2 linked regions of the Homo sapiens genome follow. The protein of the gene in region 1 interacts with the protein of each later gene in a biochemical or structural test. Each region holds a gene or a part of one and is shown in the gene's direction. Other genes may lie near its edges.

Region 1 (4,217 bases):
TCCTCCCTGGTTCAAGCGATCCTCCCACCTTAGCCTCCTGAGTAGCTGGGATTACAGGTGCATGCCACCACGCCTGGCTAATTTTTATATTTTTAGTAGATATGGGGTTTCGCCATGTTGGCCAGGCTGGTCTTGAACTCCTGACCTCAGGTGATCTGCCCGCTTCGGCCTCTCAAAGCATCATCACAGCCTTGAACTCCTGGGCTCAAGTGATCCTTCCACCTTAGTCTCCCGAGTAGCTGGGCCCACAGGCGCGGGCCATCATGCTCGGCTGGGGTTGTATGTCTTGTGTTGCTTGCCTTGGCCCCTGCCCTCTGAGATGCTCCCTCCCCACCTCCCACTCCCTCTGCTTCCTTTCCCTGGTAGGAAAGAGGCAGGCAGAGGTGTCTACACTGGCTGTCTCTGGGACAAGCACCAAAGTGTATGCTCCATATCAGTGGATCTGCAGACACAGCATGGCGTTTTGATTGGGAGCAAGGGGTGGACGTAGGTGTTGCCTTGTGGTCCCTGCCCTGGAGTTGCCTGTGCAGACAACAGGTTGGAGGAACAAGCCAGCAGGACATGAGGCTGCTGTCAGTGTGCTGCCCTGCTCTGCCTGTGTGGCCTCCCTCTCCCCTCCAGGTGCAAAGTGTGGCCCCTCTGCATCCCTGAGAGGCCAGGCTCCCCTATATCCACAGAAGGTCATCTCTACCCATTATGGGCAGGAAGGAGCCGGTGGCTGAAAGAGAAGCACATCACGCTGATTGGAGGAGGGGTTTCCTGCTGTGAAGTAGCAGAAGATCAAACCGATTTTACTAGACCATTTCTTTTCCTCCATAGCCCTAGAGGCCTTGGTTTAGATGTGTTTTACTAAAAGTTACCTGGTTAGGGTTTGAATGATGGTGTTTTATTGTCAGGAGAAAGACCATCGCTCAGTACCTCTTGGAGGTGCTGGGTGTAAACTCCAGGATGAGCCCCGCTAGGTGTACACAGGAGGAGTGGATTTCTGTTTCCTGGAGGCCCCGCCCGTCAGTCATGGAAAGGCCCGTGTGGCCTGTCCAGCGGAGGAGGTCGGAGTGGAGCAGTGCGTTCCCGGCAGGGCTGGCCACCTGCTACTGCCTTTGCTGGTGGCGTGGAAAGCAGGTGTTTCCCTCTCGGAAAGATGGGGCCGGCAGAGCACGCACCAGGGCCCCAGCACAACACGCCTCCCCTGGCCTGCCAGCCCGTTCCCTGGAAACATGTCCTTGTGGAGGCCGTGGATGGACATTGGGGTTGCTAATTGCATTTACTTCCATTTCCCACCCCGTCTGGCCCCGCCTGGCCCCTCCTGACTTTTTTTCCCCTTTCCCCATGGTCCTAATGTGTGCAGGAAACACGGTCTGAAAAGATAAGGTGGGCTGGTGCAGGCCCAAAGCAGTCAGGATGCAGCCAGGCTCTGTCAGGGACCCCTGAGGACTGCCTCAGGGACGAGAAGGGGGCCGGGTTGGGGTCTCTTGGGCTGCCTTTGCCTGTGTGCTAATCTGAGTGACTTTAAAGATACCGTTCTCCTGTGTCAGCAGAGAAAGGTGGCCTCTGGGGGCTGCGTTCATTCTTGAGTGCTGCCTGTGTGACTGATAAGGGCATTCCAAAGGGCAGCTGGGTCCGGCAGGGGTGGTGCCCTTGGCTCCAGGGGCTGCCGACCAGTTGCGTGGTCCCGGCAGTGCCTCATGCCGAGTCATCCCCCGGCGGGGCCTCTGTGGGCAGCCCGGCCAGTTCGTTCGTTCCCCACCATGGTCACTAGGCAACTGTGAACTAAGCGGGAGTTTTTGTGTCTCAATCTCCCCATGAAAGCTGTATCAGCATCAGCAGGGTAGTGTTTCTACTTGCAGTAGCAGATCAGAGACCTGGCCAGCTTTGTGTCTGACTTTCTGCTGGCCACTGCCACATCAGTGAGTTCCATTGAGTTATCACAGCAGCTGCATCTAGGAGGAAGCTCCTGCCTTTCAGAGGAGGAAGCAGAGGCTTAGGAAAGTTAAGTAATTGGCCTAAGATGACAGGCAGGCCAGCAAGTGTCGGCGCTAGGATTTGAACCCAGGTAGGGGCTGTGCTCCTACTGCGGCGGAGCTGAGAAGGGTGCCTTGGCATGAAGGCTGTGGGCGAAGGAGTGCCGGGAGCTTGGGTCAGACAGACCTTTGCCCCTGTTGGGTCATTACTGTGGACACACAGTAATGTGTGTCCCTCCTGAGACACACAGAGGCCACCCTCTGTTTCTCTCCCACCCAAGGTTAGACTCCAGTCCTGAAATGGACCTGAGGTCTGGGGCTTTGAACAGCAGTGCTGGTATTGTGTTCCCTGTTCCCAGCCATAAATGATCCCTTGGGGTCTCCAGGGAGCCTGGTGGCCTGGGCTCTCGTTTGCCCTCTGGTGGTCTGCAGGCTCCCTCTAAGCCTGGGAGCTGTCCTGATCCTTAGTGGTTGGATGGGGCCTCCCTGCCCACACTCCCACCTGTGTGTCCTGAGCCCTCCGGCCCAGAGGCAGGCCTGCGCCGTGGGCCGCCCCCACTTCCTGCCGACACCTCCTGAGATGGAGATGCCGCTGCCAGCAGCACCCCCAGGCTGAGGTTTCACCAGGGTGCTCCGAAGACCATCAAATGCTCCCAGGGGCTGCCCAAAGGCCATGAGCCAGGCCAGGTGCTGTGTCCCTCTTGGATTCAGCATCCATAGCACAAGTAGATCAGAAGGTTCAAGTCCCACGTTAGTACTTGGGGAGCTGGGTGGCTCTAGGGAGTTGCTGTAGTCCCTGGGAGCTGCATCAGTCCATCAGGAAACACCATAGCCTCTCCAGTTATTGTAGATTACCAGAATTTACATGTTAAGCTCTTGCCCTAGTGCCTGGTGCACAGTTAAGTGTTCAAGTGTCAGCTGGTTCATAGTCAAGAGATTGAAAAGCCCAGGGCTTTCCAGACGGTGATCTGAGTAACATCCTGGGGAGTATCCTCGGGGAAGTGCTGACTCAGCCGGGGTTTCCCGTTGGGTTCCAGGCCCTCCTTTGCTCCCAGCTCCAGGCCTCCCAAAACCCTCTGCTCGCCCCACCTGGCTGTGGTCTCCCTCTGTGGCCCAGCAGGCCAGGATGCCAAGACAGCTTTTGGCCTCAGCCTCTGCTGGGGGCGTGCAGGCTCTGCCACAGAGGAGGCGTACCAGGCGCTGCCCGCGCTCAGCACCTGTTCCCCAGGCTGCGCACTGGCGGTGGGCTGGGGAGCAGCTGGCCGAGCGCCTGCAAACATTCCGTTTATATTTGGGGGATGAGGCATTCTTCATGCATTTGAAGTCCTTGCCTACACACCCATCAGAATCTGAGCTTCTTAAGCCCAAAATACAAATCCTGCGAGTAAATAAGAGCAAACATTTACTCCTGCTCGCAGTGTGCCAGGCTCACTCCATCCTCCCGCGGCCCTCCAAGCTGGAAACCTACTATCTTCGTGTTACAGACTGAGAAGCTGGGAACCGAGGCTCTGAGAGGTCAGAGACCTGCTGGGTCACACAGCTCGTTGTTGAGTAGAAGGTTCAGGATGGAAATGTGGGCCTGATTCCAGAGTTCCTCTGCCCCCTCCCGCCCCTCTTTTGTTGCTTCTGTCTGATTTGCTGGGGTCTACGTTGTGTGTAGTGAAGTCCACCCTCCTCAGGTGCCCTGCTGTACAAAGCATTCCTGGGCTGCCGCCACCATGACAGAGAGTATTCCCATCGCCTGAAAGTTCCCGTGCCCCTCATAGTCACTCCTGGTCCCAGGCAGCCCACTGACCTTTGTCTCTAACTTTTGCCTTTTCCGGAATGTCACCTAAATGGAATCATACAGGATGAAGCCTTTTGCTTCCACCTTCACTTAGCAGGATGCTTCTGAGCTGCATCTGTGTGTTTGAGAGCCCCTGTGGCCCGCTCCTCTTTGTTGGGGGTCCTTGTCCCATCATAGGGATGCACCATCCGTTGTCATCCATTCACCTGTTGGGGCGCTTGGGTTGTTCCACCCGGGGCAGTTTTGAGTCAAGTACGTGGTTCGTGTGGGCGTGTGCTGCTGCTGCTCTCAGGTAAATGCTGAGGAACGGAGGCGCCTCTGTGCTCCACTGGAAAACCCTTCCGGAGGAGCTTCAGCCTGAGCAAGCCCAGGAACGAGGCCCAGCACGCGTTGGAAACCTGTGTGATGGAGAGCTAGGGCGAGAAATACTGAAGCCCACGCAGCTTGAATGACAGGAAACAAAAGTCGAT
Region 2 (3,102 bases), on another chromosome or scaffold:
TGGCCAAAACCCTTGCAGTTGGTCTATTCAAATGCTGGGGTCCTGGGTGCTGTTGCCGTGACTTCAGCTTCTCCTGAGACAGGTTGAAGCCCAGTCTCTTAATGCAGGTCATATTCTTGTGTGTAGCCTGTGGGCCTCCTATGTCGGAATCACCGAGGCATCTTGTTGAAATGCAGATTTCTGAGCTCCCTTCAGTCCCTGAAGTGGATAAGTCAGTCCCTGGTGACTTATCCAACCAGAATTTCCAGGATCAGGGACCTGGAATCTGTTGTTAGGCACACTGAAGTTTGAGAACCACTGAATCAGTGATTTCAGTATTTCCTAAAATGCTTTTGTGCCATCATATGAAATATCAGTTTTCCAACTGGTCCTAGTGAGTTTTGTTTTAGATGTTTGTTTTACAGTGGAAAGGGAAATGATAGTCTGTGGCGGTTATTTGTTGCCCACTGATATCGCCCCAGGACCTACAAATGGAGCCTCCTTGTTAGGAGGCAACTGGAGATAGTGATCTTACTGTCTTCTTCCAGTTACTTCAGACCATATGCTGTCCTCCACATTTAGTTGATCTCCAGTTCTGCCTGGGTGTTTGCTGTTTGCTACCCTGTATCTTTAGTTCTCTTATTCTTCTAGGAATGATTGCTCAAAGATCATTCATCAGAGGACCAACACAGTGCCCTTTGACCTGGTGCCCCACGAGGATGGCGTGGATGTGGCTGTGCGAGTGCTGAAGCCCCTGGACTCAGTGGATCTGGGTCTAGAGACTGTGTATGAGAAGTTCCACCCCTCGATTCAGTCCTTCACCGATGTCATCGGCCACTACATCAGCGGTGAGCGGCCCAAAGGCATCCAAGAGACCGAGGAGATGCTGAAGGTGGGGGCCACCCTCACAGGGGTTGGCGAACTGGTCCTGGACAACAACTCTGTCCGCCTGCAGCCGCCCAAACAAGGCATGCAGTACTATCTAAGCAGCCAGGACTTCGACAGCCTGCTGCAGAGGCAGGAGTCGAGCGTCAGGCTCTGGAAGGTGCTGGCGCTGGTTTTTGGCTTTGCCACATGTGCCACCCTCTTCTTCATTCTCCGGAAGCAGTATCTGCAGCGGCAGGAGCGCCTGCGCCTCAAGCAGATGCAGGAGGAGTTCCAGGAGCATGAGGCCCAGCTGCTGAGCCGAGCCAAGCCTGAGGACAGGGAGAGTCTGAAGAGCGCCTGTGTAGTGTGTCTGAGCAGCTTCAAGTCCTGCGTCTTTCTGGAGTGTGGGCACGTTTGTTCCTGCACCGAGTGCTACCGCGCCTTGCCAGAGCCCAAGAAGTGCCCTATCTGCAGACAGGCGATCACCCGGGTGATACCCCTGTACAACAGCTAATAGTTTGGAAGCCGCACAGCTTGACCTGGAAGCACCCCTGCCCCCTTTTCAGGGATTTTTATCTCGAGGCCTTTGGAGGAGCAGTGGTGGGGGTAGCTGTCACCTCCAGGTATGATTGAGGGAGGAATTGGGTAGAAACTCTCCAGACCCATGCCTCCAATGGCAGGATGCTGCCTTTCCCACCTGAGAGGGGACCCTGTCCATGTGCAGCCTCATCAGAGCCTCACCCTGGGAGGATGCCGTGGCGTCTCCTCCCAGGAGCCAGATCAGTGCGAGTGTGACTGAAAATGCCTCATCACTTAAGCACCAAAGCCAGTGATCAGCAGCTCTTCTGTTCCTGTGTCTTCTGTTTTTTTCTGGTGAATCGTTGCTTGCTGTGGACTTGGTGGAGGACTCAGAGGGGAGGAAAGGCTGGGCCCCGAGTACAACGGATGCCTTGGGTGCTGCCTCCGAAGAGACTCTGCCGCAGCTTTTCTTCTTTTTCCTCATGCCCCGGGAAACAGTCTTTCTTCAGAATTGTCAGGCTGGGCAGGTCAACTTGTGTTCCTTTCCCCTCACCTGCTTGCCTCCTTAACGCCTGCACGTGTGTGTAGAGGACAAAAGAAAGTGAAGTCAGCACATCCGCTTCTGCCCAGATGGTCGGGGCCCCGGGCAACAGATTGAAGAGAGATCATGTGAAGGGCAGTTGGTCAGGCAGGCCTCCTGGTTTCGCCACTGGCCCTGATTTGAACTCCTGCCACTTGGGAGAGCTCGGGGTGGTCCCTGGTTTTCCCTCCTGGAGAATGAGGCGCAGAGGCCTCGCCTCCTGAAGGACGCAGTGTGGATGCCACTGGCCTAGTGTCCTGGCCTCACAGCTTCCTTGCAAGGCTGTCACAAGGAAAAGCAGCCGGCTGGCACCCTGAGCATATGCCCTCTTGGGGCTCCCTCATCCAGCCCGTCGCAGCTTTGACATCTTGGTGTACTCATGTCGCTTCTCCTTGTGTTACCCCCTCCCAGTATTACCATTTGCCCCTCACCTGCCCTTGGTGAGCCTTTTAGTGCAAGACAGATGGGGCTGTTTTCCCCCACCTCTGAGTAGTTGGAGGTCACATACACAGCTCTTTTTTTATTGCCCTTTTCTGCCTCTGAATGTTCATCTCTCGTCCTCCTTTGTGCAGGCGAGGAAGGGGTGCCCTCAGGGGCCGACACTAGTATGATGCAGTGTCCAGTGTGAACAGCAGAAATTAAACATGTTGCAACCAAGTGCTAGCCTGTTGCTTTGTTAACAGGAGTTAAATGGCTAAGCCTAAGTGTCCCCAGGATGGGATTGAATCCCTGCCACAATGGAGTGAAAGGTGGGGGAGTTTGAGGCCTCTGTGTTCTTTTCCTCGGCTATAGTGGTTTGGGGCTCCCCCAGATGGGGTGATGCAGAGGCCGGCCGGGATGCCTGCCCCCTGGGGAGGAATCTGGACAGCCCACCCGTGGGTCATATCTGGCCTTGCTGACCATCTTTGAAGTCTGTCCCGACAGCCTACAAATCAGGGCAGTGAGATTTCACCTGCTGGGAGAATGGGATGGGGATGGGGTGCTGGGGGACAGCAGAGAGGAAATGAGCATTTAGCAATACTGTGTATGAGGTACTGTGCCGTGTGCTGTTTCAAACTCATTTCAGAGTGAGTTCATCCTCACAAAACCCCTGCAGGCCGAGTCCCGGTGTCTGTGCTGTACAGGTGAGGAAGTAGGCCCAGAGGGTACATTCACTG

Evidence for each region. Proteins that work in one complex are often made in the same cells at the same time.
Region 2: the proteins of EHD1 (region 1) and MUL1 form a complex in vitro, tested with the Homo sapiens proteins (one study listed by BioGRID).

The regions. Positions count from the first base shown.
Region 1 is NC_000011.10:64,868,176-64,872,392, reverse strand, and holds part of EHD1 (EH domain-containing protein 1), read left to right. Parts: intron 1-4,217. UniProt on the Homo sapiens protein: ATP- and membrane-binding protein that controls membrane reorganization/tubulation upon ATP hydrolysis. In vitro causes vesiculation of endocytic membranes. Acts in early endocytic membrane fusion and membrane trafficking of recycling endosomes.
Region 2 is NC_000001.11:20,498,948-20,502,049, reverse strand, and holds the end of MUL1 (mitochondrial ubiquitin ligase activator of NFKB 1), read left to right. Parts: intron 1-630; coding exon 631-1,360; 3' UTR 1,361-2,602; downstream 2,603-3,102. UniProt on the Homo sapiens protein: Exhibits weak E3 ubiquitin-protein ligase activity. E3 ubiquitin ligases accept ubiquitin from an E2 ubiquitin-conjugating enzyme in the form of a thioester and then directly transfer the ubiquitin to targeted substrates.